4 linked regions of the Homo sapiens genome follow. The protein of the gene in region 4 purifies or fractionates together with the protein of the main gene of each other region. This does not show direct contact. Each region holds a gene or a part of one and is shown on either strand. Other genes may lie near its edges. The genes, in order: TLE4, CEP120, SEPHS1 and HLX.

The links.
Region 1: the proteins of HLX (region 4) and TLE4 purify together in Homo sapiens (affinity purification with mass spectrometry; 2 studies listed by BioGRID and IntAct, with this or other methods). This does not show direct contact.
Region 2: the proteins of HLX (region 4) and CEP120 purify together in Homo sapiens (affinity purification with mass spectrometry; 2 studies listed by BioGRID and IntAct, with this or other methods). This does not show direct contact.
Region 3: the proteins of HLX (region 4) and SEPHS1 purify together in Homo sapiens (affinity purification with mass spectrometry; 2 studies listed by BioGRID and IntAct, with this or other methods). This does not show direct contact.

What each region holds. Positions count from the first base shown.
Region 1 is NC_000009.12:79,714,953-79,721,978, forward strand, and holds part of TLE4 (transducin-like enhancer protein 4), read left to right. Parts: intron 1-360; coding exon of another isoform or gene 361-529; exon of another isoform or gene 530-2,186; intron 2,187-3,044; coding exon of another isoform or gene 3,045-3,119; intron 3,120-3,769; coding exon 3,770-4,019; intron 4,020-4,620; coding exon of another isoform or gene 4,621-4,686; exon of another isoform or gene 4,687-4,772; intron 4,773-5,093; coding exon 5,094-5,341; intron 5,342-6,788; coding exon 6,789-6,936; intron 6,937-7,026. UniProt on the Homo sapiens protein: Transcriptional corepressor that binds to a number of transcription factors. Inhibits the transcriptional activation mediated by PAX5, and by CTNNB1 and TCF family members in Wnt signaling.
Region 2 is NC_000005.10:123,378,404-123,385,429, reverse strand, and holds part of CEP120 (centrosomal protein of 120 kDa), read left to right. Parts: intron 1-296; coding exon 297-479; intron 480-2,347; coding exon 2,348-2,444; intron 2,445-2,540; coding exon 2,541-2,693; intron 2,694-3,229; coding exon 3,230-3,319; intron 3,320-7,001; coding exon 7,002-7,026. UniProt on the Homo sapiens protein: Plays a role in the microtubule-dependent coupling of the nucleus and the centrosome.
Region 3 is NC_000010.11:13,331,283-13,338,308, reverse strand, and holds part of SEPHS1 (selenide, water dikinase 1), read left to right. Parts: intron 1-1,958; coding exon 1,959-2,066; intron 2,067-4,337; coding exon 4,338-4,492; intron 4,493-7,026. UniProt on the Homo sapiens protein: Synthesizes selenophosphate from selenide and ATP.
Region 4 is NC_000001.11:220,875,355-220,882,468, forward strand, and holds the start of HLX (H2.0-like homeobox protein), read left to right. Parts: upstream 1-4,088; 5' UTR 4,089-4,503; coding exon 4,504-5,095; intron 5,096-5,839; coding exon 5,840-6,019; intron 6,020-6,809; coding exon 6,810-6,994; intron 6,995-7,114. UniProt on the Homo sapiens protein: Transcription factor required for TBX21/T-bet-dependent maturation of Th1 cells as well as maintenance of Th1-specific gene expression. Involved in embryogenesis and hematopoiesis.

The sequences.
Region 1 (7,026 bases), on a different chromosome or scaffold from region 4:
TAGAGCTTTATTATTTCCAGTTCTGAGTGCCTTCTATGTATACTAATAGCAAACAGAGGGCCACATTAATGTCATTAATGAAAGCAGGCTCTTGGAATTCATTTGGACTCTTTGAAAGGACTCTTGCCAGGAACATAGTAGGTGCTCACAGAGTGGTTGTTGTTGAGGTGAAGGCTGTCCTGTTGAAGGCCTTGAAGGAAATTGTGTGCCTGGTTTCTTAACTATTTGAAATCTCAGTGCTCTTTAATAACCATTTAGTGATTCTAGACTAGAGAATGAGATGGCTTTTCTAATAAATTATCATTAAGAATGTATAACACCATCTAAACTTGGAATAATCTTTCTTTCTCTTCCTTTAAGATTTAGTCTTCATGACCTCCTAATTGCTAAATCAATTAGCCTTTTTCTCGGCCATCATCCCTCAGAACCTCAGCCTTTCACAAGCGTTACTGCCACCTTCTCCTTGTCTGAACTGAAATCTGGCCGTCTCCTGAGATCATCCCTTCACTTGCAGCCCTATACAGGGTGACCTTTCCATTTCATTCACTGACCTCAGCACCAGCGGTGGGGTTAATAACAGCTGTGGTTGCCACCCCTTCTCCAGCCTCTCCATGAACAGAACTTTTCTACCTGTTGGTGAAAACCTTGCTCCTTTCAGGCTCGTGCCATTGGACTACCCCCTCTTCCACCTTGTTGGGAGTATTTCCCCAGTGTATTAAAGACTTGATACATGGCTGAGAGTCTTCCACTACCCAGAGGCTGCCATAATCCTGGTTGACTCTGGTATCTACAAAGACAACCCCCCAGTATCTTCATCATGGTCTTGGACCCCCTCATCTCTAGTGAACATCTGCCCTCCTCACCTTCAGTTACCTGTATTTACAGGTTCACAAAGAAGAGCTTATCATCACCCCTGTGTCACCTCCAGATTCTAAGCGTCCCATCCAGTACAACCTACTGTGGCTCCAGTCAGCCAGAGTGCTCCACGTTCTATTTCCAACTTACCACTATCTCCCAGGCTCTAGCCACTGCTTCTCCTCTAGATTACTGTGTAGTCCCCAGACTAGTTGTCTTTCGTTTTGCCACCTACACTCCATTCTTCACCCAGCAATCAGAAGATCATTTGAAGACGTTAACTGAATCATGTCACTTTTTTTGCACAAGTCTCCAGAATCATATCTGTACTCATCACAGCCTATATGGCCCTTTTTAGTTTGGCCTTGCCTGTCCCTTCACTCTTATATCCTATATGCTCTCCACCGAATGCACTCTGGCCTCCTTGCTTCGTTCTGGTCTCAAGGCCTTTGCATTTGTTGTTCCCTCTGCCTGGCACGTTCCCCATTACTTATTTGTAAGGCCTGTGTCATTCCTTCAGCTCTCCGCGCATATGCTGCCTCTTCAGAGAGGGCCACCTGACTGCCACTGTGTGCTCCCCTACTCTCTTTTATCTGAAAATGTGTGTGTATATTTAATGGTATTTTCCACTGTCTGAGGTGTTTATCAGGTATTTATGTTTATCTGTTACCTGTTTTCCTCTCTAGGATGTAGACTAGTGGAAGGATAGGGACTTTGTCAGTATTGTTCACCTGATTCCCCAGCACCTGATGGTAACTGGAACATACGAGGCATTTAGGAAGTATTTGCTGAATAAATGAATAATTAGCACGCTTTCTTGCTCTGGCCTTCGAATTTGCCATATTCCTAATCATCATACTGTCTTCAGACAATTCGTACCCATTCTTTATGTTGCAGCCCTATTGCCATTTTCTCTGTCCTTTTCACTCTGTTAAATTCCTAGACTACCATGCATTGTTCACTGCACTGACCATCTGACATTTTGATAGTTACTTATGTGCATATCTCACTAATGAATGTGCCCCTCAGGCTGTAATTTCAGGAGAACAAGGTGTGTGCATTTCTTTCTTATTCCATTCTTACCATAATGCTTGGCACACTGGCATACTCAAGAAATATGTGTTAAGTGAATGAATCTTAGTAAATTGTCATGTGATTGAACATCTTCTCCCCCTTTCTATTTTATTATCTCTGCTAATAATCTACTTCCATAACTACTCTGGCCGGAGATTCCTTAAATGTCCACATTCTTTGGGATTCTGTATCTGGTCTGCTTTTCACTGCATAATCTGCTCTGGGATTCTTCTTTCCGTCCCCTTAGCTTCAGCCATCACTTCTTTATGGATGATATCTAACCTGACCTCTCTCCTGAATCACAGCTGTTTGGATTTCTGCCCTGAAGTTCAAGAAAACCAATTCCTTCACCTCCCCATAGGTGTACCCTTGAGTTATGCTTTCCTGTCATCTTTACTAGGTAATGCAGTCTACCTAGTCACCCAGGTTCTTAGCCCTAGGGTCCTCTTCAGCATCTCTCTCTCAGGTCACACATCCAGTGTATCTCCAAGTCCTGTTGATTTGATGCAAGAAATGTCTTCTGTCCATTGGCTTCCTAGCTTCCCACCTCCTTCCCCTCCAGCAAGTCTCACATACTATGTTCTTCTACAACGCTCTGTAGTCTGTGGAGGAAGTAAAAGCCCGCCACTGTCTAGTGCCCTCATCTTCCACAGCCACAATGCATGCGTCATTTTTTCTGGGAGCATTCAGGTAGTTGAGGACCATTCAATAATGGACTGAATTTTGATGAACATGGCCAGCCTGTAAATTTTTGCATTAAGGAACGATAAACTGTTTTAATTTAATTCTACAACTTCCGCAGTTTGGTCCAGCTTCCTGTCCTTTACGCACCCACAATGCTTTCCCTTGGTATGTCTTTTGTAAACTATTTTCTGTAAGCAGAGCAGATTCCCAAGCTCCGTGCCCAAGTAGAGTAGCATCTTTTCCAAAATGGGCTGTTGCCTATGATAGTCCCCAAGATAGGCCCAGCTGCCTCCTGCCTGCCACTGGCGTCTTCTGCTTCCAGAAACCTAACATGCGTCACAACAGCCTCACTCGTCCCTTCCTGACTTCAGTGCCCTAAAAATAAAAATGAGTCTGTTGGGGGAGACGCTCTTACTTAAGTTGCATTTTAGGACCAAATGCTTTTACCACCTGAGGGCTTTCCCTGGAAATGAACTGGAGATGGAACTGCCAAGAGATACTCACAGGTAGGCCTTTGGGGCTGTCAGGATGCCTTTTTAGGTTCTCATTCCATTTGGATTGACTAGGATTTGTGATTGTCAAGTCTGATCAAGGTTTTAAAATAGGGCTTTATCTTTTTTTTTTTGGCACATCTGTCATTTCAACGTCTAAGCCTAGAGGCTCTTAACTCCTTAAAGCTTCCTGATTTTGGCCTACTCATCTCCCTTAGTAAGTCCCTTGCCGGGAATGAATTGATCTATAGGCGAGGTCTCATCACAGGCCTCTGATTCATCCAAAGGAGAAGGCAATGCAGGTTTATAGGGCATCCCTGAAAGGTGGCTACTGCACTTGACGGTGGTTATCTCATTTAATTCTGTGAGGTATAGGTAGTGTTCTCTTCATTTTAGAGACTAGAACTGCTGTTCTAGTTTAGAGATTCTAAGTAACTACTGATGTCCCACAGCAGCTTGTACAGAGTCAGCCTGAGATCTGGCCCTGTAGCAGCCTAGCTGTATGATTCTGGAAATTATGTTCTTTACACTGTATGGACAAATTCGATTTGTTCGTAAATCACAAGTGGCACTGAAGGTGTTTTATTTCTCATCTCATTACACTGAACAGTTAAGTGACATTTTTTTACATTCCCCTCTTTCTTTTTTCCTCTCCATTGCCTTAGAGCATACTCCTTCCATGTTAGCGCAGATGGTCAGATGCAGCCTGTCCCTTTTCCACCCGACGCCCTCATCGGACCTGGAATCCCCCGGCATGCTCGCCAGATCAACACCCTCAACCACGGGGAGGTGGTGTGCGCGGTGACCATCAGCAACCCCACGAGACACGTGTACACGGGTGGGAAGGGCTGCGTCAAGGTCTGGGACATCAGCCACCCAGGCAATAAGAGTCCTGTCTCCCAGCTCGACTGTCTGGTGAGTGAACATGGATGAACAAGACTTAGACTTTCATTCAGAAAACAGGAGGGGCTGATGAGAGAACTGTATGTATGAGCAACACCACACAGTATTGATCCCAGGTGGATAGTTGCTCTTCAGGGGACTGCGATCTTTCACTTGGAGGTGTGTCTTTTGCTTCCTAGACACACAGTGATCTAGTTCTTCATGTGTGGCATGTGCACCATACTGATTTCATTAACTCTGCCTCCCATGGGAAAAGGCAAACCGCTTGTTTTCCTCTCTGATGGTTAAGCAAACTAAGAGCCCATACAGTGACTATGAGTGTGCACCTAAATATCATCTGTCACATGTAAAGAGTAACTTACTGCCTCATGTGGCAAATACTAGATAGCCCCTCAGCTGCTTCATTGGCCTTTTCCCTTGAGTTCCTTAGGAAATGTCAGTTTAGTAGAATTTTTGCTATAGCATGAGGCTACATCAGTTGAACATAATTAAATATACATAAGATTCCCGTAACCTCATGAGCTAGGAGGAACTTTTTTTTTCTGTAACTTAACACTCCATGATCAAGTCTTGCCTCTGGTGCAGCTTTCATCAAATGCATGATGCCCTTTAGTCACGTAATGCAGGCCCAGGCAAAAGGAACAGACTGCCAGGGATCTACCCCCTGAAACTTTCTTGACATCAGTAGCAGGACCTTTCAACAGCAGAACTGAGCCTGAGTCTACCAAGGTTCCAAGTTTGGATACTCCAAGACTGTGAGAGCTCCTGCATTAGTGTACGTGTGTATCTGTGTGTGCAAATGATGCAAGCAGTTGGTTAATTTGGTGGTGGTGGGAGTGGGTCTAGAGCTTTGCATTTTGATGCTAATTAAGATTAAATATCTCAGTACTACATTTTGTAGATCAACTTTAAGTACTTCCCTAATTTCATGTAATTTTCTAGCATTAATCCACTTTATCATTGTCATAAGTATAAACGGCTCATTAAACCAGGAGGGAACACAATACTTTTATGGATTTCTGCTCTCATGTTAATGCTGTTTTCCTTTCCTCATGAGTAATCTCTTGATGGTTTTTGTCTCTACAGAACAGGGATAACTACATCCGTTCCTGCAGATTGCTCCCTGATGGTCGCACCCTAATTGTTGGAGGGGAAGCCAGTACTTTGTCCATTTGGGACCTGGCGGCTCCAACCCCACGCATCAAGGCAGAGCTGACATCCTCGGCCCCCGCCTGCTATGCCCTGGCCATCAGCCCCGATTCCAAGGTCTGCTTCTCATGCTGCAGCGACGGCAACATCGCTGTGTGGGATCTGCACAACCAGACCTTGGTGAGGTAGGTTAGCAGGATCTGTTACCAGGTTGTGAGGAGGAGCCGATTTTACCATATTTTGCCAAAGTGCTGTGTATATAGGTATGGGTGTGTGTGTGTGTGTGTGTGTGTGTGTGTGTGTGTGTGTGTGTGTGTAAAGTGATATAATTATCTTACTAAAAATTGTTCAGAACAGGTCCATTTTAAGATGTTAAAAATAAATTATCAGTGTGAAAATCTTGTTTTCTGTAGTACTTGAACTTCATAAAATGAGGTCTTTTTTCCTTCCTTGACTTATACTAAAGCATCGCCAATTTGTTTTAATAAAATGAGGTCAATTTGACATAATTAATGTACATAAAGTTTCCATGACCCCATGAGCTCCATGGACATCTGTAATTTGCCATCTGTGCTTGCTAACAAACGATTATTGTTGATAGAGCCTCACTGAGAAGATTCACAGTGTATGGTACTGTCTTGAGTGCCATACACATCTAACAGGTTCATTCCTTCAGCAGATATTTAGCAACTCCCATGGGCCTATGCACTGTATTGGGTGCAACTCACTCTGAAATGGTCTAGATTATCTGTTGTCCCACCTTTGAGGTTGGATAGATATAACTTTACAAATGAGATTATAAAAGATTGGTGTTGGTAGATGGGAAAAGCTCTGAAATGATTTTCTAGGTGTCAATACCCTAAGAGATTAGCAAGCAAGTAGAATGATCAGCTACAGGTATGAAAAGGTTGTAACCAGAGGTAGCTACAAGTCAGGTGTGTAAAAGAAGAAGGCTTTACTATCTGTTATTTCAAAGTACTGAAACCTATAGATCCCAAAACAAATCATCACTTTCATTGCTTATCAGGCAGCCTCTTATGAGAAGCTGCTTCTAACCCTGTTTTCTCCTGGTGACCTTGGTACGTTTTGCCATGAGTGATTCCTGGGCCAGTAGTTCACACTGAGTGTCTTTCCAGGTGCCTTACTTGAGAGCCTCGCCTTCCGTCTTGCACAGCCACCCACAGACACATTGCTGCTCACTGGCAGGACTGGTCCTGTCGCTCCCTGTGCCATCCCCAGTCCTTCTTTAAAGGGAAAATTAAATTCTCTCTCCCTCATACCACAGTAATAGAATAGGTCTCAGAATATATCTTTAGTTAGTGCATATATGTGTAGGCGTGTTTTCTTTTGTTAATTTCAGAGATTTTTTTCCCATTAGTAATATCAGTCATGTTTTCATGAAAAAGTAATTTGAGGAATTCCTAAGTATTCAAAACCAAGCAAAAAGTACAGGACATGTGGCATCTCTTTGTATATGCTTTGTTATTACTTTGAATAATTAGAAACCATAATAAACCAAAATGAAATCTACAAATAAGGCCTGCATTGAAATTGAATCATCAAGGAATTCTAAATTGATTTTAACTAAAAGCTAACTTTTCAAGGGCTTTCCCTCCATTTTGACATTTTCAGGCAATTCCAGGGCCACACAGATGGAGCCAGCTGTATTGACATTTCTAATGATGGCACCAAGCTCTGGACAGGTGGTTTGGACAACACGGTCAGGTCCTGGGACCTGCGCGAGGGGCGGCAGCTGCAGCAGCACGACTTCACCTCCCAGGTATGATCCGTGGCTGAGGCATTTTAAAGATACGGTTTTAGGCTGAGGTGGGCGGATCACCAGGTCAGGGAATCGAGACCATCCTGGCCA
Region 2 (7,026 bases), on a different chromosome or scaffold from region 4:
ATACTGTAGGCAGTTGGACAAAGGTAAGTATTTGTGTATCTAAACAGAAAAGATACAGTAAAAATATGATATAATTTTATGGGACCATCATTGTATGTGAGGTTCATCATTGATGGAAACATCATTTCATATTTGGTGCCTGTGAAATTTAGCATTCAGTCTAACAATTGTGTTAGACGACATTCCAGGTAACAAAAAACATCTTTGACTCCATTGAGGGAATTCAAAGAATTTAGTTCAGAAAAGACTTTAGGTCAGAGTTGATAGGTATGAACACATGTTTCTCTCTTCCTTAGGATTCCATTACTGGTTGAACTATGGCACAAGGATAAAATGAGTAAAGATTTACTTCTGGGAATTGCGAGAATCCAGCTTTCTAACATCTTGTCTTCAGAAAAAACTCGTTTTTTAGGTTCTAATGGTGAACAGTGTTGGCGTCAAACTTACAGTGAAAGTGTGCCTGTTATAGCAGCACAAGGGTAATGCATTTCACAGAATTGGTATTTGCTTTTCTTTTCAATTCATGGAATGATTTTGATTAGTCAGCCACCACTTCACCCTTCCATAACCTCTTTTTTCTGATCCACCACTTCACCCTTTCATAACCTCCTTTTTCTGATCTTCTCTGACCTGTGGCAGCTATACCCCACTTTGCCCTTTAGCTTTCTGATACTGATTTCACCTCACAGAAGTCAAGAGTCTGTGTTACCATGGTATTGTAATATTCAGATGGCTAATTATTTTCCTTCCTCTCTCTAGCTTGAGAATTTTAAATGCAGGATCTATTTTTTTATTTTGTAATTTGAGGTTAAACTTTATAATGTATTTTATATTATTTTGCACTGGGAATGGCTAAGACTGTTTTTCCACTTAAAATATTTTACTCCTACCCCAAATCAAAAGTCTGAGGACATTATAGATATTTGGCAGTCAGAGGCAGTTTTTAAAATAATTATTGGTTTTTTGCCCTGAACTTCATTGCCACAAAGAAAAACTTGCGTTTTTTTAACATATTTTAAATACAGTAAAATATTTGTTGAATTATCCTTTCAAAATTAACAATAAAAATTTAAAATTTAACTTAACATTATATATCATATGCCCTTTATCATTAAAGATAAGACTAAAAAAAAGAGAAACAAGGCTCAGTGAAATTTTAGCTCTAAAAGTATTGAAATGTCTTTCCTTATTCCTCACCATTCATGGCCATTTTGTTTCAACTCCTATTATTGAAGAATCTTTCTTAAAAATTAGCATTTTTTTGTCGTAAGTAGAAGATAATAAAATCACTAATAATTGAAGCTATTTTAATGCTGCCCGTTTGTTATGAATATTAACTTTTATTGCCATACTTTGTAGACAGAAAGTTTTAGGAGATTTACTTAAGTGAGAACCTTAGATACTCTCAGGAGTTTCTGTCAGATACAGTAGTGCTTCATTTAACTTTATTCATTTCTTCTGAAATCTGTGAGATTAGAAGAAGAAAATACAAAAGTTGGTTAATTAAGAGTTCTAATTGTGTGAGAACCATTCATTCAAGTTTTGTTTGACCAGAGTATATTTGATTTAGACAAAACCATGGTTTTGTATTACTAGCATTTTATTTTCTTCTAATATTTTATCTTGTTCTCATTTGGTTAATGACAAATGCTGCATGCAGTTGTATGATACAAAGAGGTGCTCATTATGCTCATACTAACATATAATTATCCTAGAAGCATTGCTTATGTGCCAATTAGGCCTAGAGGCATTGCTTATGTCTAGTAAAATATTTATGAGTATGTACATCCCAGGAAAAGTAGAAAAAAGAATTCAGAATAACCAATATAATCAAGAGTAGGGGAATTGTTAAGTATATTTTACTACATAAATTCATTTGTATATTTTACAGGCAGTAAAAAAAAAATCACATTTTTAAATTAATGTTATGATGTGAGAAAATGCCCCTGATGTAAATAGGAAAACAAGACAAAACTGTATGAAGTCAGCATGCATGTGTGCATGTATATCTATATATAAATAAAACAGGAGGGAAATAAACTACATATTAGCAATAATTACCTGTGGGCAGTAAGATTTTAAATTTCACCTTTATACCTTTTAAAGCTCTCATAGGGGTCATTTTGTAGTAAATGTATGCGTGTATTTAGCAGGGTGTTTGTGATGATCAATTTATATATATATGGAAGGTGTTGAAGCCTACAGAAGTTGCTGCAGTTTCAAAAACAATAGAGTTAGGAGCAGAAAATGTTGCTTACTTCCCATTGCTAAAGCACTGGGGAAATAAAAGGAAAAATAATATAAAGTATTTCTGTGAATTTTAAGGTATTTCTTATTTTATTTGTAGATCAAATAACAGGATAGCAGATCTTTCTTACACAGTGACTCTAGAAGATTATGGACTAGTAAAAATGCGTGAGATTTTTATCTCTGATTCATCTCAGGTAAATATAATTGAATGTTATCAAATTTTTTTTAAAAGGAATCTAATGTGCATATGTGTGTGAGTGTTTAAATGTACTTTTTGGTTCATCTCTTAGGGTGTATCTGCCGTACAGCAAAAGCCGTCTTCTCTTCCTCCAGCACCTTGTCCTTCAGAGATCCAGACAGAGCCTCGTGAAACGTTAGAATACAAAGCAGCACTTGAGCTAGAAATGTGGAAGGAGATGCAAGAAGATATATTTGAAAATCAGGTTACTTTTTAAATGTTACTTTAAAAAATCTGCTTTGTCTGCTCTGTATATTTTTCCTTCTCCGTAGCAAGGTTTAATCTCTATGTTCTGTAGGTACCTTATCTAACTTCTTTGAATGTCAACAATGCTTTACTTAAAAAAATTTGAGAATCAAAAAATACCTGAAATGTGGCACCTTGGCAGAAGCCACTCAGAATTCTGTAAACTTTGTTCATGATTATTGGGTAAAATTGGGAAGTTACTCTTTAAATTTCATGTCCTCATTTGGCATGCCCTCCTGGAACCTTGCATCATTAGTCTCCAAACAAGAGTTAGAAAGCACAACCCACTGTTAGTTTTATAGTTTCCTGAAGTGAACTCAAATGGGCATTATTTGCCTCAGGCATCCTCCTTTTTTTTTTTTTTTTTTTTAGAATAAAAAAGAATGCCTGAAAAAATCATATTAGTGATCAGCATCGGTTATTTAACTGACAACTGATTCATTTATTTGACATATTTGGGGTTTTTTGGCGACTTTATTTTTCTTCCTTTTGTAGCTGAAGCAGAAAGAACTGGCTCATATGCAGGCTCTTGCAGAGGAATGGAAGAAAAGGGACCGAGAAAGAGAATCACTAGTAAAGAAAAAGGTAATAACTTGTGTAAAAGTGAGGAAGAGAAGGAAGAATATTAATGATAATATCTTGTATTTGCGTTAAAGACAGTCTCTGGAAGGAATAACTAATTTTAGTGGTGATATGTTGGCATGGAAGAAGTGAGTGGTGGCTCTGGATAGAGAAGGGAGGCGTTTCACTGTAAAGTATTTTGTGCTTTTGGAATATGCAAATGTATTACCTATTCAAAAAATATATAATATAGGCCAGGTATGGTTGCTCACACCTGTAATCCCAGCACTGAGGGAGGATTGCTTGAGGCCAGGAGGTTGAGACCAGCCTGGACAACATAGTGAGACCCCCATCTCTTAAAAAAAAATATGTGTGTGTGTATATGAATATACAAAAATGAATAGAGAAAAACCCTGCTGATGTATAAAAAAGAAATAAAAGCACATTTCAATATATATAAAACTACATATTATAATCTGTAAGTTAATAGAATGCCTCAAACGTTTAAGCTATTTTTAAGAATTATGAAATAAATTACATTTTTAAAAATGATAACATGAGACCATCTGATTTTATTCCTGAAGCAAAAGCTTAATATTTATCCATTTACACTGAAGTTATTAAATAAAACAACCCTAACAGACTTTCTTCAAATATTCTATTAATAATTTTAGGACTTTAGAAATACTCTTATTAGTGGTTAATCAGTATTCAGCTTCAGATTTGAGGGGATGGCTCTACAGGGCTCCAGTGCTCCTTCTCTCTATAACCCCCTCCTCTCATCAACTCTAGTTGCCTCAGCCTCTCTGGTCTCCATTCCGTTTTCTCAGCTCAGCAAGATTGCTAGTGTCTGTTTGGGTTCCCCTTCCTTGAGCTACTACAGTCTTCAGGCAGTAAGCTAGATATATTGTAGTGGTTGCCTCATTTATTTCTCACCTTTTAGGGATCATTGTCCTGTGCTGCCTGTTGCCCAATGTCTAAAAACAGTTGTTTCATAAATGTTGTTTAAGTTGTGTTTATAAAGGAGGGCCATTTGTCTTTTATGGGTGGAAACAGAAGTACACAGGCCTTTGATTTTAAAATAACCAAATCAGCTTTTTCTAACTTAATTCTCACCATTAAAAACTTGAATAACCAGTGAACTTTTAAAAAAGCTGAAAGACAAAAATAAGAGTATTTCAAAGTCTCTATTCTTTAGAAACGTTCAGATAACCAAAATTACAATAATTAGAAGCCCTGACATACATTTTAACATTATGCGAGTTATCCTGTTATTAAGTGAGTTTCATATTAAGTAATATTTACAGACCTCACCTATTAGATATTCATTGAATCTGGGGGAGCTGGAAAATACCATTTTAATTTTTAAAATTTTTAACCTAGCCTTTAAGACAAGATGAGTTTATCCTTGAATCATTTCTCTTCATTGTGTTGAAGAGTATTTTAGTATTGAGGTCTGCAAAATTCAAATCGGGAAATACTTGAAAAGTTAATAAAATTACTAGAACCGTGACAAATTCACTTTGTGCCATAATTAAACTTTCTGTGAAAACTCACCAAGTAATTTTTGGTTTGTTGTCATTTTGGTAATAATGATCTTTTCAGCTAAAATTTGTAATTGGTTTCCATTTATACACTTCTACCCTTTCAGCCTGAAATGATGAGTTCCTGGCTAGTTAATAACTCCAGTCAGAAAACAATATGATGCCTACATAATAAGTGTTTGTGCTGTTTATTCAAATTAGTCATATGATAAAGGTAGATCTGAGATTGAGATTTGCCATTTTCTTTCAACCTAAGTGCATTTTTGAGACCAAATACTTTAATTCATTTGTCTTAAAGTATCCTGTCTTGCATGGGATCAGTTTTTCTTTTAAATTTTATCAACCACTACAAAATCAAGTCAGTAGTGAGAAAAAAAAGTTGTTTTTCAGTATGATGAAATATTTTAAAGCTAAATACCCTGAGACTCTCACTATAGTATTTTTTAAATGTCAATTATATGTGAGCCTTTTCGTTTATTTACCTGATTTGTCTTAAAAAACGATGTATAACTTCTTTCACACTTTGAAAATTTACCTGAAGGAGTAGATATATACGTGGTTCTTGTTCTGCCCTCTGGAGCAACTGAGATATACTCTGTCTTACATATGACTGCCTGTCAGATAGCTGAAGATAGTCATTACCCACAGAGAAGGAAGACATCAGTTCTACATAAGGAAGTGTTCTGTAGATAAGATCATGCTTTCACTTTGGTGAAGATTAGTGGATATTGCCAGGTAGACTCAAAGGGTATTCCGGACACAGCCCCTTGAGGAAAAGGCAAAGAAGTTTGAAATACACTCTGCATTAAGAAAATTATATGTAGTTTGATGTTGGAAGAGGGGAGGAAAGAGTGTGCCTCAAGAAATAAGGTAAGAGAGGTTGATACCCTGGAGAATAAATGATCTCGTAAATCCATTATGTAGAGTTTAGACTAGATACTGTAGGCTTTTCTTAGCCAGGCCTTCCTGAGAGAATGAAGCCCTTAATACCCTAAGTGATCCATTATTGGTAATAAATTAACTTTATCCTATGCATCTAAAATGGTAGTTATGTACCATTTTAGGAGAGGATGGAGAAAATAATTAAATCATTTTCTGTGTTTTGTGGTTCAGATGATAAACCCTGGTTGAGAACGGTAGAAATATCAGAAATTTTTTAAATGAAGATTTTTATATAAAATAATTAGGTTTTCATTCTATAACAATAATTCTGATGGAGGTACAGTGGCTAGAATAGAGGAATGTGAAACTAAAGTCCAGGAGACCAGGAAAGCAATATGTATAAAAAACGAAAGCCAAAAACTAATAGTAGTGAAAGGTTATGGAGAAAAGATGGGTGGTAAAGAGATGATTTTAAGGAGGTTTAGGACCTCAAGCGCTAAGACGTCCTCACGGCTGCTCACAATCCTACTGCTTTCCCTAGTCAATTCATTTTCTCACTCGCCAGAACAGTTAGTTTTTGTCTTAACAAACAATCCTTCCTCATCCTTACCCGGTTTATCTCTGTCTTTGAAACACTTCCTCTATTTGGCTTCTTTGACTATATTTTTTTTTTGGACTACACTTTTCTACTGTTGTGTTCCGCTGTCTTCACTGGTCTCTCTTTCCTAATTTTCATGCTAGATTCTCCTCATGTTGGCTTTATTGGCTTGTCCCACAGCCCAGTCCTCAAATACCATCCTTTCTTCTCTCTGTATACTCACTCCTTGGATGATGTCATTCACTCTCTTGGCATTATATACACCAAGACACCCACCACACGCACCCCCATCCCTGACTTCTTCCCTGGACTCCACACTTGGCTATTTAGTTGCTTACACTACATATGCGTTTCAAATTTAGCAGTCTTTTGTTTCCATCCTCTGTAAATTTAGATTAAGTCTAACATACTAGAGGATGTGGAAATCATAATATGTGAATAACAGTTAAAATTTGTGTTTATCTTGGAGAAGAAAAAAGACCAAGAGGAGGAAATATGACCATCACCAGTCTCAAATTCATAAAAGCACATTTTTTTCTTTGAATTGGCGGATGTAATTTGTGACTTTCCTATTCTTAGGTCCTCTGTTTCAGTGAAATGATGTGTATTTTTGAATTTGTGTGTGTTTTAAGTTTGGGAGAAGGTAGGTAACTTTTTTTTTTTTTTTTTTACTATATTTTAGGTGGCTGAATATACTATTCTAGAAG
Region 3 (7,026 bases), on a different chromosome or scaffold from region 4:
ATAGGACTGATCCTAAATGTTTCCTTCAAGAGATTAAGGAGCTAGTATCTCATCACAATTAGATGCCTCAAACATTAATTCGGATATCTGGTTAATTCACTCAACCCAGCCACTTGCACACCCACCACCGTGTGATGTGCCGCTGTACATAGTAGGTTTCTGACCACTGAGTTAAAGTTCCTGGCTACTGATGATACACTGCTGAGGTGTGTTCCCCAGTTGTTTACTGCGTAGTTGCAGCCAGCCACCCTTTGATCCACCCAACCTTTAACCCCAATTTGCTACCACCCAGGAGGAGCCAGTGGAGAGACTAGGAAAATCTGGTTTGCTATAAAATGCCAGGTGTTCTTCGTGTGTGGCAAGGACAGTGGGATCAGGCTGCACTGTAGGGACTTTATCATGAGGCAGCCACGTGGGGGGTGTTCACCCTCAGGTACCAGTGACAAATACCAGATTATTGGAAACCTATATTTCTTCCGCACATCTGTCCGTTTTCTCCTCTGGAGCAATACTCTTGAGACTGGGCAGGTAAGCCACAGCCCAGGTCCCACATGACCAGGTGGCAGGGATGGCTAAAACCACAGTCCATTGTTTTCCAGCATCTCCTAAAATGAGAGCACCCAGAACAGAAGGGGCGCTAAATCACCACCCCCCTAACTAGCGATTGGCTTGTGCGAGTTGTAGACCACCTGTTGGCCTTGTGGACTGGCTTGATGATACTGAAAGTGTGGCCACAGATGGTTGTTGAGCTGCATTGCTGACCTCCAGGAATGTATAAGAAAGCCTAAAGCAAGCAATTAAACAGCCACTGGAAGTGATAACACTTGGGAGTTTGATTATCCTTATGTCAGAAGGAAAATTTGTATTTTCTCTTTATTGTCTATAAAAGATAAAAATTTAGATAAGGGCAACTTAACTTTTAAAAATCTCCAGTGGCAATAAAAAAATCTTCATTACCACATTTCTGTTGAATTGTATTTTAAAGTTCCTAATAAAATGACATCATTTACTGGGAAATGCTTCTTTTTCTTTTGAAAACAATATGACTTCAGCCCTGGGTATTTTTTTATTTGTTTCTTAAGATGATTTTTCTGTTTATCTCATACATCCTTGAAAAGAAGCTACAAAAATTTTTTTTGTTTTTTTTTTGTTGTTGTTTATTGACAGTCTTGCTCTGTTGCCCAGGCTAGAGTGCAGTGGCACGATCTCAGCTTACTGCAACCTCCACCTCCCAGGTTCAAGCAATTCTCATGCCTCAGGCTCCCAAGTAGCTGAGACTACAGGTGTGCACCACCATGCCCAGCTAATTTTTATATTTTTAGTAGAAACAGCATTTTACCATGTTGGCCAGGCTGGTCTTTAACTCCTGGCCTCAAGTGATCCACCTGATTCGGCCTCTCAAATTGCTGGGATTACAGGCGTGAGCTATCACACCCAGCCTAAGCTGCAAACATTTCTTAATCCAAGTGCACAAAGACTATCTCCATCTCTATAACCACTAAAGCCAGCCATTTTTAGAATCTGTTTGGGATATGTGGCTGTTTCCAACTTTTCTTTAGGAGAGTTGTTTGCAGGCTTTTTCGCTCCATAGCTCTTCCCCCAAGACTGTCGGTTCTAAACTTGCTTCTCCTCCTCATTCGCTGCACATATACCCCTTCCCCTATCTAAATAAATTGCAGACTTCTAAAATTTAGAATGGAGAAAAACTGGTACATTCTTTGTCCTGCACAAGAAAGAGGTGGTAACAGGAATGTCTGAGAAAAAACGAATGGCCTAGTGACTCTGTGATGCAGGAAAGGTTGCCAGTCTGCAAATCATAGAAACTGAGGACCCCATCCTAGTAGCTGCTACTCCTGGAAAGTCTCCACGTTCTCTGTGGAGTCCACTCCATGGCTCACTCAGTTTCTGCAGATGGAAAGTCCCCGGTCGTCCTTTCTCATGTTTCCCTCTCTTCCCAGGGCAGGATAGCGTGTGCCAATGTCCTCAGTGACCTCTATGCAATGGGGGTCACGGAATGTGACAATATGCTGATGCTCCTTGGAGTCAGTAATAAAATGACCGACAGGGTAAGTAGGAGCTACCCGGCTGCTGCCTGGTCCGTGTTGTCCCGGTGGCATCTCTGGCCTTGGTTAGACTTGGTTTCCCATCTAGAAAGCGAGGAGCCCAGGCCATATGGCTCCCTGCACTCCTTCTGGCTCTCCACTTTTTGGCAGTTACCAGTAAATTAAAATGAGGAAGCCTGGCCTAGTCATCTCTGCACTTCTGCCACCTGCTCCCTTTCTCTCTTCCCAGTAGACTGAAACCAAGACTTTTTTTTTTTTTTTTTTTGAGACAGGAGTCTCACTCTGTCGCCCAGGCTGGAGTGTAGTGGCGCAATCTCAGTCCACTGCAACCTCCGCCTCCCGGGTTCAAACAATTCTCCTGCCTCAGCCTCCCAAGTAGCTGGGATTACAGGCACGTACCACCACACCTGGCTATTTTGTGTATTTTTATTAGAGACGGGGTTTTATCACGTTGGCCAGGCTGTTCCTGAACTCCTGACCTCAGGTAATCCACCTATCTCGGCATCCCAAAGTGCTGGGATTGCAGGCGTGAAACACCGTGCCCGGCCCAAGGCATTTGTGTATATTTTTTTTTGTTTTATTGAGACAGAGTCTCACTCTGTCACCCAGGCTAGAGTGTAGTGGCACAAGCTCAGCTCACTGCAACCTCCACCTCCCAGGTTCAAGCGATTCTCCTGCCTCAGCCTCCCAAGTAGCTGGGATTACAGGGGCACACCAGCACCCCCAGCTAATTTTTATATTTTCAGTAGAGATGGGGTTTCACCATGTTGGTCAGGCTGGTCTCGAACTCCTGAGCTCGTGATCCACCCACTTCGGCCTCCCAAAGTGCTGGGATTATAGGCATGAGCCACCGTGCCCGACCTGTGCATTTTTTAAAATAAAGTTTTGGCCATAGTAATGGTGCCTCAGTGTGAATCAGGCACAGCCTTACAGATGTGGGACACGTGGCACTTAGAGGGCACTCCCTCTGCTGTGGCTGGGGATGTCGTGGACGTAGATGGTGACGGGGGATAGGGCCACCAGGGGCTCACGCCTCTGTGTCATCGCCTAGCATTCTGTGCCCTTGCTGCCTGAACCTGTTCTTTGAACCAGAGATGAATTCCTATTTAGATAGACAGGTACTTGTTTTTGTCCCAAGAGCCCCCAACAGTTTGCCCTGCCTTAGAGAAACTTGAGTTTCCAGTAGGCTCTTTCCTGCCCTTGAACATGGGCTGTAGTCATCAGTGGTGCATGGTGGTCTTGGCGCAGGCTCTGTCAGTGTGGGTTACTCGTAGCCTGCAGCCAAGCCTTGGTAGGATGGATGCCTACTGCAGGGCAGGGGACCTGTGCTTAGGAAGCCAGTCTTGAGATTCTCAAGGAGCACTGGACAGCTGGCTTCCAGCAGTCATCAGACCTAGGGCTGGTCCTGTGCACTGAGTCCAGACAATGTTGGTGTCTGGGCTTTATTTACATTGTTGTCTAGAACATCTTCCAGCATTGGATAAAATGATGACAATGTGAAATATTTTCTAGCTTTTGTTTTTGTTTGTTTTTGAGACAAGATCTCCCTGTGTTGCCCAGGTTGGAGTGCAGTGGTGTGATGAGAGCTCACTGCAGCAGCCTCAGCCTCCCGGGCTCAAGACATCCTCCCACTTCAGCCTCCGGAATAGCTGGGACCACAGGCACATGCCACCACACCAAGCAATATTTTTTTTTTTTGTTTTTGAGATGAAGTCTCACTCTTGTGCCCAGGGCTGGAGTGCAGTGATGCGATCTTGGCTAACTACAACCTCTGCCTCCCAGGTTCAAGCGATTCTCCTGCCTCAGCCTCCCAAGTAGCTGGGATTACAGGCGCATGCTACCACACCCGGCTAATTTTTGTATTTTTAGTAGAGACGGGGTTTCACCATGTTGGCCAGGCTGGTCTCAAACTCCTGACCTCAGGTGATCTGCCCGCCTCAGCCTCCCAAAGTGCTGGGAATACAGGCATGAGCCACTGTGCCCGGTCACCCAGCAATTTTTACATGTTTCGTAGAGAAAGGGGTCTGTCTGCATTGCCCAGACTGGTCTTAAACTCCTGGGCTCAAGCTCTCTGCCCACCTCGGACTCCCAAAGTGCTGGGATTACAGGCGTGAGCGATTATGCCTGGCCCCTAACAACCTTCCCTGTCTGTAAACTTTGAGGACTTCCTTTAGGATTTTATGGTTCTTTTTATAACTGTAAGTGTAAAAACCTTCTTTTCTGGGTTTTGAACAGAATTCTTTGACTTTTTATTTGTACCTTTTTCAACCTTAGGAAAGGGATAAAGTGATGCCTCTGATTATCCAAGGTTTTAAAGACGCAGCTGAGGAAGCAGGAACATCTGTAACAGGCGGCCAAACAGTACTAAACCCCTGGATTGTCCTGGGAGGAGTGGCTACCACTGTCTGCCAACCCAATGAATTTATCATGTAAGTTGATTTTTGTTTCATATCACCTGACCTGTTTTTCTCTCTCTGTCCTCTCTTTTTAAAAATTGATGTATTAAGGTCAGGTGCAGTGGCTCACACATATGATCCCAGACTTTGGTAGGCCGAGGCGGGCAGATCACCTGAGGTCAGGAGTTTGAGACCAGCCTGGCCAATGTGGCGAAACCCTGTCTCTACTAAAAATACAAAAATTAGCCAGGCATGGTGGGGCAAGCCTGTAGTTTCAGCTACTCTGGAGGCTGAGGCAGGAGAATCGCTTGAACCCCAGGGGTGGAGGTTGCAGTGAGCTGAGATCATGCCCCTGCACTCTAGCCTGGGCAACAGAACAAGATTCTGTCTCCAAAAAAAAAAAAGACAAGAACGCAAGGCTGGGCGCGGTTGCTCATGCCTGTAATCCCAGCGCTTTTGGAGGCCAAGGCGGGTGGATCACCTGAGGTTGGGAGTTTGAGACCAGCCTGACCAACATGGAGAAACCCCATCTCTACTAAAAATACACAATTAGCCAGGCATGATGGTACATGCCTGTAATCCCAGCTACTTGGGAGGCTGAGGCAGGAGAATCACTTGAACCCAGGAGGCTGCGGCTGCAGTGAGCCAAGATCGCGCCACTGCACTCCAGCCTGGGCAACAAGAGCGAAACTCCATCTCAAAAAAAAAAAAAAATAGATGTATTAAGATATAATTTGCGTACTATACCATTCACCCATTTAAAGAGTCAGTGGTTTGGAGTATACTCAGAGTTGTACAGCCATTACCGGAGTTGATGTTAGGATGTTTTCATTGCTACAGGAAGAAACCCCATCCTCCTCGGCTCTCACTGTTCACTCCTGCTCCATCCTGGATTTTGTCACTTAGCATAGTATTAGCATACTTTTAAGGGTCATCTATTTTGTAGCATGTGTCAGTATTTTAATCCTATTTTTAAGACATTTTAGGTGTTTTTGTTTTTTTTTTTTGAGACGGAGTCTTACTCCGTCGCCCAGGCTGGAGTGCAGTGGTATGATCTCGGCTCACTGCAAGCTCCATCTCCCGGGTTCATGCCATTCTCCTGCCTCAGCTTCCCGAGTAGCTGGGACTACAGGCACCTGCCACCATGCCCGGCTAATTTTTTGTATTTTTAGTAGAGATGGGGTTTCACCATGTTAGGCAGGATGGTCTCGATCTCCTGATCTCATGATCCGACCGCCTCAGCCTCCCAAAGTGCTGGGATTACAGGCGTGAGCCACCGCGCCCGGCTGACATTTTAGGTTTTTTAGTTGAAGTATAATTCACGTAACAAAATTTCACATAACATAGAATTCAGCATTTTGAAGTACACAATGTGTTGGTTTTTAGTATTGACAAGGTTGTGCACCCATCACCACTATCCAATTCCAGAATGTTTTCATCACCCCAAAAAGAAGCCCTGTAGCTCACTCCCATTTCCCTCCTGCTCCCATCCTCTGGCAACCAAGAATGTGCTTTTGTCTCTAAGGATTTGCCTGTTCTGGACATTGTATAGAAATGGAATCGTGCAGCATGACATGCTGTGTCTGGCTTCACTCCCATAGCGGAATGTTTTCCGGGTCCATCCGTGTTGTAGCATGAATCGGTATCGCATTCCTTTCCATGGCTGTATAATCCATTGCATGGATGGACCCTGCTTTATTTAGCCATTCCTCAGGTGACGGACCTTTGGGTTGTTTCCACCTATTAGGAATGATGCTGCCATGAACATTCTAAGTTTTTGTGTGGACATAAGTTCCGGTCTCTTGGGTGTATACCTAAGAATTGACTGGGTCATGTGGTAATTATGTTTAACTTGAGGAATCATCAGACTGGTCTCCAACATGGCTGCGCCATTTTACGTTCCCAGCAGCAATGTATGAGGATTCCAATTTCTCTATGACCCCTCCAGTACTTGTTTTCCTGTCTGTCTTTTGGATTCTAGCCAGCCTACTGGGTGTGAAGTGGAATGTCTTTGTGGTTTTGATTTGTGTCTGCCTGATGACTGATGAGGCCGAGCATCTTTTCATGTGCTTACTACCCATTTGTGTATCTTCTTTGGAGAAGTTTCTCTCCTAACCAAGTTGTCACTTTCCATGTTTGATGTCTTGTTAAGAAAAGTCAGTCTTTTGGCCGGGCGTGGTGGCTCATGCCTGTAATCCCAGCACTTTGGGAAGCCAAGACGGGTGGATCATCTGAGGTCAGGAGTTCAAGACCACCCTGGCCAACATGGTGAAACCCTGTCTCTACTAAAAATACAAAAAATTAGCCGGGCACGATGGCAGGCGCCTGTAATCCCAGCTACTCAGGAGACTGAGGAGAGTGGTTTGAACCCAGGAGGCGGAGGTTGCAGTGAGCCAAGATCGTGCCACTGTACTCCAGCCTGGGTGACAGAGTGAAACTCAGTTTCAAAAAAAAAAGATCTAGAATTAGAAATACCATTTGACCCAGCAATCCCATTACTGGGTATATACCCAAAGGATTATAAATCATGCTGCTGTAAAGACGCATGCACACATATGTTTATTGCA
Region 4 (7,114 bases):
AAACTTTGGAGCAAGACCTATGGATAAAGTTCAAGGGCAGGGCCACAGCCAAATAGAGAGCTGGCCACCTGCAAATCTGCCACATCTGGGAAATGGAGAAAAGGAAAAAGAATAAATCAAATAGCTATGGATGTTTGTAGCCCTATTGCATTATTTGCTTTTCCCACCCCATAGCAAAGTCCAATTCTTCTCAAAAACTCAGAAATTCTGGAATAACTCTAAGGTCTCCAAGGAAAGAGAGTTGTGTCCTACTTAGAATAGGCCAAAGTATGCGTGTGTGGGTAGGGGGTGTGTCTATGGGGGATCATTAGAGTCCTAATCTCTAGTATCTGGCACCCACAAAGAACAGAACTCCCATATCCACCACTAAGTATGACTGCTGGGACCAGTGATCCATAAGTCTCCAGCTGGCAGAAAGACAGGCACAATATACACAGATTCCTACGTTGCTGCAAATTTCTTGAATTCTCAAGTAGCTGGATAAGCTGTGTTTCTTTTTCTTTCTGATTGTAAATATTTAATTATTTACATCTCTTTTCTTGAAGCCAGTAGGTACCATGTTTGCAAGAATATTTGAAATTAAGAGGAGAGGGGTTCCGAAGTCCACAGAGCAACTGCCTTGCACATTATTTTACCCAGAATGCACAAGAAAAAGCAACACAGATAGCAGATATAGCCAGTTCAAGTCCTTGAAGAGTTATGGTCCTGTAATATACAAGGCCCAGCATTCACTATAATTGACCTGTGCTCAGTGTGGATCTGTGACTCTGGTTTTGGGACAAAAGTCTGCACTGATGATTTAAATATGGAGGCTCCAAAGACAGGTAGAACCAAAGGATGGTGAAACCCATCTCTTGCCTCAGTCATTGCATAAGCCCCTGATTCAGGACCCTTTTAAACCCTAAATCCCCATAAGCTATATTGTTAAATTATAAAACGAACCTTCTCTGATCTTATCCATTCCCAATATGGTGAAATCGTCTTTGGCTGTGTTTAACTAGGAAAAGTGAAGGGATGAGTTGAAAGCATTAAAAACAGCAGTCAGCATGATCAGAAACCCCAGCCAATGCGATATTTTCCAAAGAAAAGAGGCCACAGTTAGGGTCTCCGCTGCGTAGACCAAGCTCAAGTTAATTCGGTTTAGCCAGGCCCTTTTCTTTCCTGTTAAATTCTCAACCCCCATGGCTACCAGCCCCTGGGGAGCCCTCGCCTCTACCCCCAGGACCTCCCTGCCCGGCTCAGTAGCTCTGGGCCAGTTCATTTCGCCACAGCCCGGAGCCTCTCGGAAAGCAAAGATTAAAGGGGAAAGTCGCAGCTGTATATTTATATTTTCATTGCTAGAAGGGAATTGATTTCCGTGCATTTATTTTGGTAGTTGTAATACATAAGGGCGGATTTGCGTCACCCGAGCAACTTGCCGGTGGAGATAAAGTTGCACAAATATTGAAAGGGGAAGTGCTAGGAGTCATTATAGAGTTTTTCTCCGGAAGAAATAAGGATTTCTGCAGTATCCTAAAATACTAAGGCCGCTTCTATTTTGAGACCAATCTCGCAGGCACATCCGCTCATTTAGTCCCGAGTTTGAGCCCATCAAAAAACAGGAGATGACCTGAACTCCGGCGAGCCCAGGGTTTCCTGCTGCTTTCTTGGTTCTGAAGAGTGGGGAGTAAGGAGGGCGGGAGTCTGCGGGCTCAGAACTCGGCGAGGGGCCTGCAGGGGCCAGGCTTGGGCCTGGGGAAGGGGTAGAGGGGGCGGCGGGGGTCGCTCCAAAGACTTGTATTTCGCGTTTGCCTCCGGGAGCTGGGAGTAAGGCCTTGGATGGCGCCGACGCGGTTGCGAGGAAGCTGAGGCCTGGGAGAGCAAGGGGCGCGCAGGCGAAGTTGCAACTTGCACTCCAGCCGCGGGCCTGGCGGAGAAAGGGAGGCTCGCGGCGCCGCGAGGAGTCGGCGGGCCTCGGGGCCTCGCTTTCGCCGCATCTGCCCAGCGCTCCGGGCCTTGAATCTCGGCAGATGCGAGTTGTGGGCACCTAGGGAACCCTGAGGACTCGCATTCCCCCGGGTCTGTATCCCGTGCCCACCCCGGAGCGTCGCAAACCTTGGAAAGGGTGAAAGCTGATAGGGGAGTCTTATTTCTTAAGAGAGAGGGTGAGGGCGCGCGGCGCTGCCTCGGGTAAGGAGTAAATGCACCTCTTTCACAACCGTGAGTTTGGGCTTAGGCTGAGGTCTAAATGTTTGCAGTCAAATTAGAAACGCAATCAAACTGGAAGTGGCACTAGAAAGCAGAGGGCTCACGGCCTCCGCTACGCACACTCCCACCGAAGGCTCACCAGAACCCTCAGCCAGCGCCTCAATTGCCCATGTTGTACTTGTCGCTCCTTTGCCTTCACCTTGACACAGAAAAACTGGTCTTAATACGTCTCTCGCCCCAGGTACCCCTACCTTCAGCCAAACACACCCATCTATCTCTGGAAATAGCACCTCTCTCCTGGTTGCGTGGAGCAGGGGAAGAAAACCTTTCAGTAAAAGAGAGATGGAGAGCGAGAGCGGGAGAGCTGGAGGGCGGGAGGAGGGAGAGAGAGAGGGAGAGGGAGAGATCTTAGTGCTGGCTGATCAGAAGTGATTGATAATTTTCCAGGAGAAAGTCAAAAGCTTAAAAGGATAGCATCTGCATCAAGGGGCTAGAGAAAACACCAGAAATTAATTTTATAAGCCCAAACCCTGAACTCGAGATAGGCATGGCAAGTTCACTTGCTTTTCTGGGTTTATTTGGTGAGGAGCCTTCGTGCTGAAGGGAAATAAAAATGTCACAGAATCCCTGTTAGGAGATGCTTATTAGGGCAATCGAAAACAAAAGTTTTCGTGGTTTCATTATTCGTATTATTTTATTTTCTTCCTGAAAATGTGCAAGAACAGCTCATCTGGGTGGCCTGTGGTTTGTTTGGGAGAGGGGTGGGGAAATTCATTCTGACTATAATTTAAAGAGAAGAAATTCTTAAAATAGATATGTCGATGTTGCACAAAACCTCCACCACCACTACCCTGCGTTCTAAAGACCCAAGGCACGAATGGAAGACGTTGACCACCACGCAGCTCCTCCTGCAACCAGGCCCAAGGGGTTCCTGGGGAAGCTGTCACAGAATTGAAAGCAGTATTGAACCCCACGGAAATCTGCTCTTGTGGGCACTTGCAAAACAACGAACCCCACGTGATCCGGAGATGTGGTGGAGGGGTGAGGCTAACATTTCCTACAACCTCCTGCAAAGGATGGAAGCGCGTGCCGCTCTCCCGGGTTTCGGGAGGCAGCCTGTTTTGTAGCCTCTGAGGCTCCGGGGAAAGGTTTGGCTGCGTCTAAGAGAGACGTTTGGAGCCATCCGTCTTATTTTGTTTGAAAAGTCACTCGTTCAATTTGTCACTGTGTGACAGCTCAGAATAAAACCAATTTGCGGCCGCCCCTCCTCCTCGCTTCCCGGAGGATCTCCTGGGAGGCACGAGGCGGACGCGGTGCTGAGTTGGGCCGGGACTCAGGGCGGCAACATTTGGGCAAGGGCCCAGGAAAGATGAGGGGCTTTGCCGAGGACACGGACTCCTGGAATAAAAGCAGAATGAGGTCAAGAGAAGGGAAGCAAAGGGGCCAAAGCGCGCTCCGCTCTCCACCGGGAGGCGGGCTTTGCAGAGCCCTAAAGAGTGAGATTACCGTCCCTTCCCCACGCCCCCAACTCGCCCCGGGTGACAAGCGCTTCAGGAAAGCTCCTGTGATCAACCCTCCTTGCCCCGTGGCGGTTCGGAGCTGCAGAAGTTAGAAGAGAGTCAGAGCCCTCCGGAGCGGCTGCCTGGCCCCTACGCAGAGTAGCAAGAAGCACTGCGATGTGCGCTACTAAGCCCACGCGGCCGCAGCAAAAACTTTGGCGTGGCCGGGGCGTGGCTAGGGTCCGGCCAGGCCCCCTTGTTCCTAATTCCCCTCCACTCCCCGCTCCCATTGGTCACGAGGATGACCAATGAGCGCTCGGATCGAGGTCCTACCCCGGGCCTGACTCGAAAGCTCCTGCCAAAACTTTGGGAGTTTTTAGAGACGAGTTTTTTTTTTTTTCTATTACTTTTCCCCCCCCCTAACTAACGGACTATTATTGTTGTTGTTTTAAATTTAGCTCTTAGGGCTTAGCTATTTGGGTTTTCTTGCGGTGTCCGGCTCCCGTCTCCCTGGCTCCCCCGCCCGCCCTGCGGCCCCAGCGCCCCTCGCTCTCATCCAGCCCGCGAGGAGTGCGGGCGCCGCGCCGCCTTTAAAGCGAGGCCAGGGAGCGAGGCGGTGACCGGCCGAGATCCGGCCCTCGCCTCCTCCCTCGGTGGCGCTAGGGCTCCCGGCCTCTCTTCCTCAGTGCGGGCGGAGAAGCGAAAGCGGATCGTCCTCGGCTGCCGCCGCCTTCTCCGGGACTCGCGCGCCCCTCCCCGCGCGCCCACCCACCCAGTCCGGCTGGACTGCGGCAGCCGCGCGGCTCACCCCGGCAGGATGTTCGCAGCCGGGCTGGCTCCCTTCTACGCCTCCAACTTCAGCCTCTGGTCGGCCGCTTACTGCTCCTCGGCCGGCCCAGGCGGCTGCTCCTTCCCCTTGGACCCCGCCGCCGTCAAAAAGCCCTCCTTCTGCATCGCAGACATTCTGCACGCCGGCGTGGGGGATCTGGGGGCGGCCCCGGAGGGCCTGGCAGGGGCCTCGGCCGCCGCCCTCACCGCGCACTTGGGCTCGGTTCACCCGCACGCCTCTTTCCAAGCGGCGGCCAGATCCCCGCTTCGACCCACCCCAGTGGTGGCGCCCTCCGAAGTCCCGGCTGGCTTCCCGCAGCGGCTGTCTCCGCTCTCAGCCGCCTACCACCACCATCACCCGCAACAACAACAGCAGCAGCAACAGCCGCAGCAGCAACAGCCTCCGCCTCCGCCCCGGGCTGGCGCCCTGCAGCCCCCGGCCTCGGGGACGCGAGTGGTTCCGAACCCCCACCACAGTGGCTCTGCCCCGGCCCCCTCCAGCAAAGACCTCAAATTTGGAATTGACCGCATTTTATCTGCAGAATTTGACCCAAAAGTCAAAGAAGGCAACACGCTGAGAGGTAGGTCTTGGGCGGGAGGCTGCAGGCCTCTGACCACTGACCCACTCCCCGGACCCCGGGCTGGCTTGGGGTGCCTTTGAGTGTTTTTACAATTAAGGACAAATCGGTAAAACGGGAGAGAAGAAAACGAATTGTAAGAAAACTACAAAACATTAGGTCTAAAACTCACCTGTTCTATGTAAAACAAACAAAAAATGACTCCAGGGATTCTTTAAAAACACGTCTTAGAATCAATATTTATAAAAGTGGTTGGTGTAATTATCTGCTAACATGACTTTGATCTCTTTAATAATGTATCTAGAGACAGAATTATATTTTCTGACAGCTAAAGCATTTTTGGGAAACACTTTCGCACTTATCTGATTTCTAGTAAAAATTTCACCCAGGAAATGTAAATAATAAACAAAACCGCCTAGATGAGCGGGCAGAGTGGGGCCACCTTGGGGCGGAGGTTTTGCGTCTGTGGCGTTCTTGGAAGACACGTGAAAGTGAGGCCGTAAGCCGATTTATGTAAAGCCTTTACTTACTATATACATGCATATGGACGTGAGGGACACACAGGAACTTTTCGTGCGTCGCTCCTTGGCAACTGTTGGGAGAGAGAGGTTTCAGCGCCTAGACGGGTTCTCTCTTGACTTCGCTCAATAAAAGTGAATCCAGGGCAAGGGGAAGGGGAGGAACAAATCAGCGGAGAGTGTGAGTGTGCCCGAGATGTAACCTGCTATCCTTTTCCCTTGTCCCCAGATCTCACTTCCCTGCTAACCGGTGGGCGGCCCGCCGGGGTGCACCTCTCAGGCCTGCAGCCCTCGGCCGGCCAGTTCTTCGCATCTCTAGATCCCATTAACGAGGCTTCTGCAATCCTGAGTCCCTTAAACTCGAACCCAAGAAATTCAGTTCAGCATCAGTTCCAAGACACGTTTCCAGGTACGGAAAAACTCCAGAGTACTGCCTAACGGGCGAGCCGACTAACAGTCAGAAATCTCAGGACTGACGCCTCCAGGGCTGCCACGGTGTCGCAATCTCACAATTGGGGCGGGAGGCTACGGAGTCAGGAGAGAGAAACCGAAAGATTTCTCAGCGAGCTAGCGCTCGCTTCGGATGGTTCCCCTTGAAAAGGGGTAGAGGCGCCTGGAGATCCCAGAAAGTGTGTGCGTGGACGGTGGGGTGGGGGGCTTTCTCGAAGTCTTTTCGCCCCAGAGGGCTTGAAAAATGCAGCATCAATGTTGCTTATTAGCATATACACATTTTGGGATGACCTCAAACACTTGTGCTTGGCGAGTTTATGTCTGGGTGCCTGGACACATGCGGGAATAAACACACACACACACACACACACACACACACACACACACACACACACACACGAGATAATTCAATTCAGGGCTGTCATCATTCAGGCCCAAGGGACATTTTTGTCTACTCTTCGTAGGCCTGATGGCCACGCATGAGGTTTATGTTTTTCTCTTGGAATTAAAGGACAAGCCGCCAGGCTTCTCCACTCCACGCTCGCTTTAGGTCTTCCGACTGTCGTGTAAAATTCCTCCTTAGAGGGGCCATTCGGTGTATGTGCGAAGGGCTTTCTGAATGAGGGTGGAATCGACAGTTAACACGAAACAGTTTCAAGCCTTACGGGGACCCCCAGGCTGGCAGGTCAAGGACTGGACACTGAACGGCCCTCTTGTCTTTCTTCCCTCTGGCTCCCGTTCTGCGGCAGGTCCCTATGCTGTGCTCACGAAGGACACCATGCCGCAGACGTACAAAAGGAAGCGTTCATGGTCGCGCGCTGTGTTCTCCAACCTGCAGAGGAAAGGCCTGGAGAAAAGGTTTGAGATTCAGAAGTACGTGACCAAGCCGGACCGAAAGCAGCTGGCGGCGATGCTGGGCCTCACGGACGCACAGGTAAGGCAGTTCTGGCTCCAGCGCACAGCGCCCTCGGGCGGGCAGCAGCGCACGGCCTAGTCTGGTAGGTCCCCTCCATCCCGGCCGACTGGCCTCCTGCGGTGCAAACGCAAGATCTTG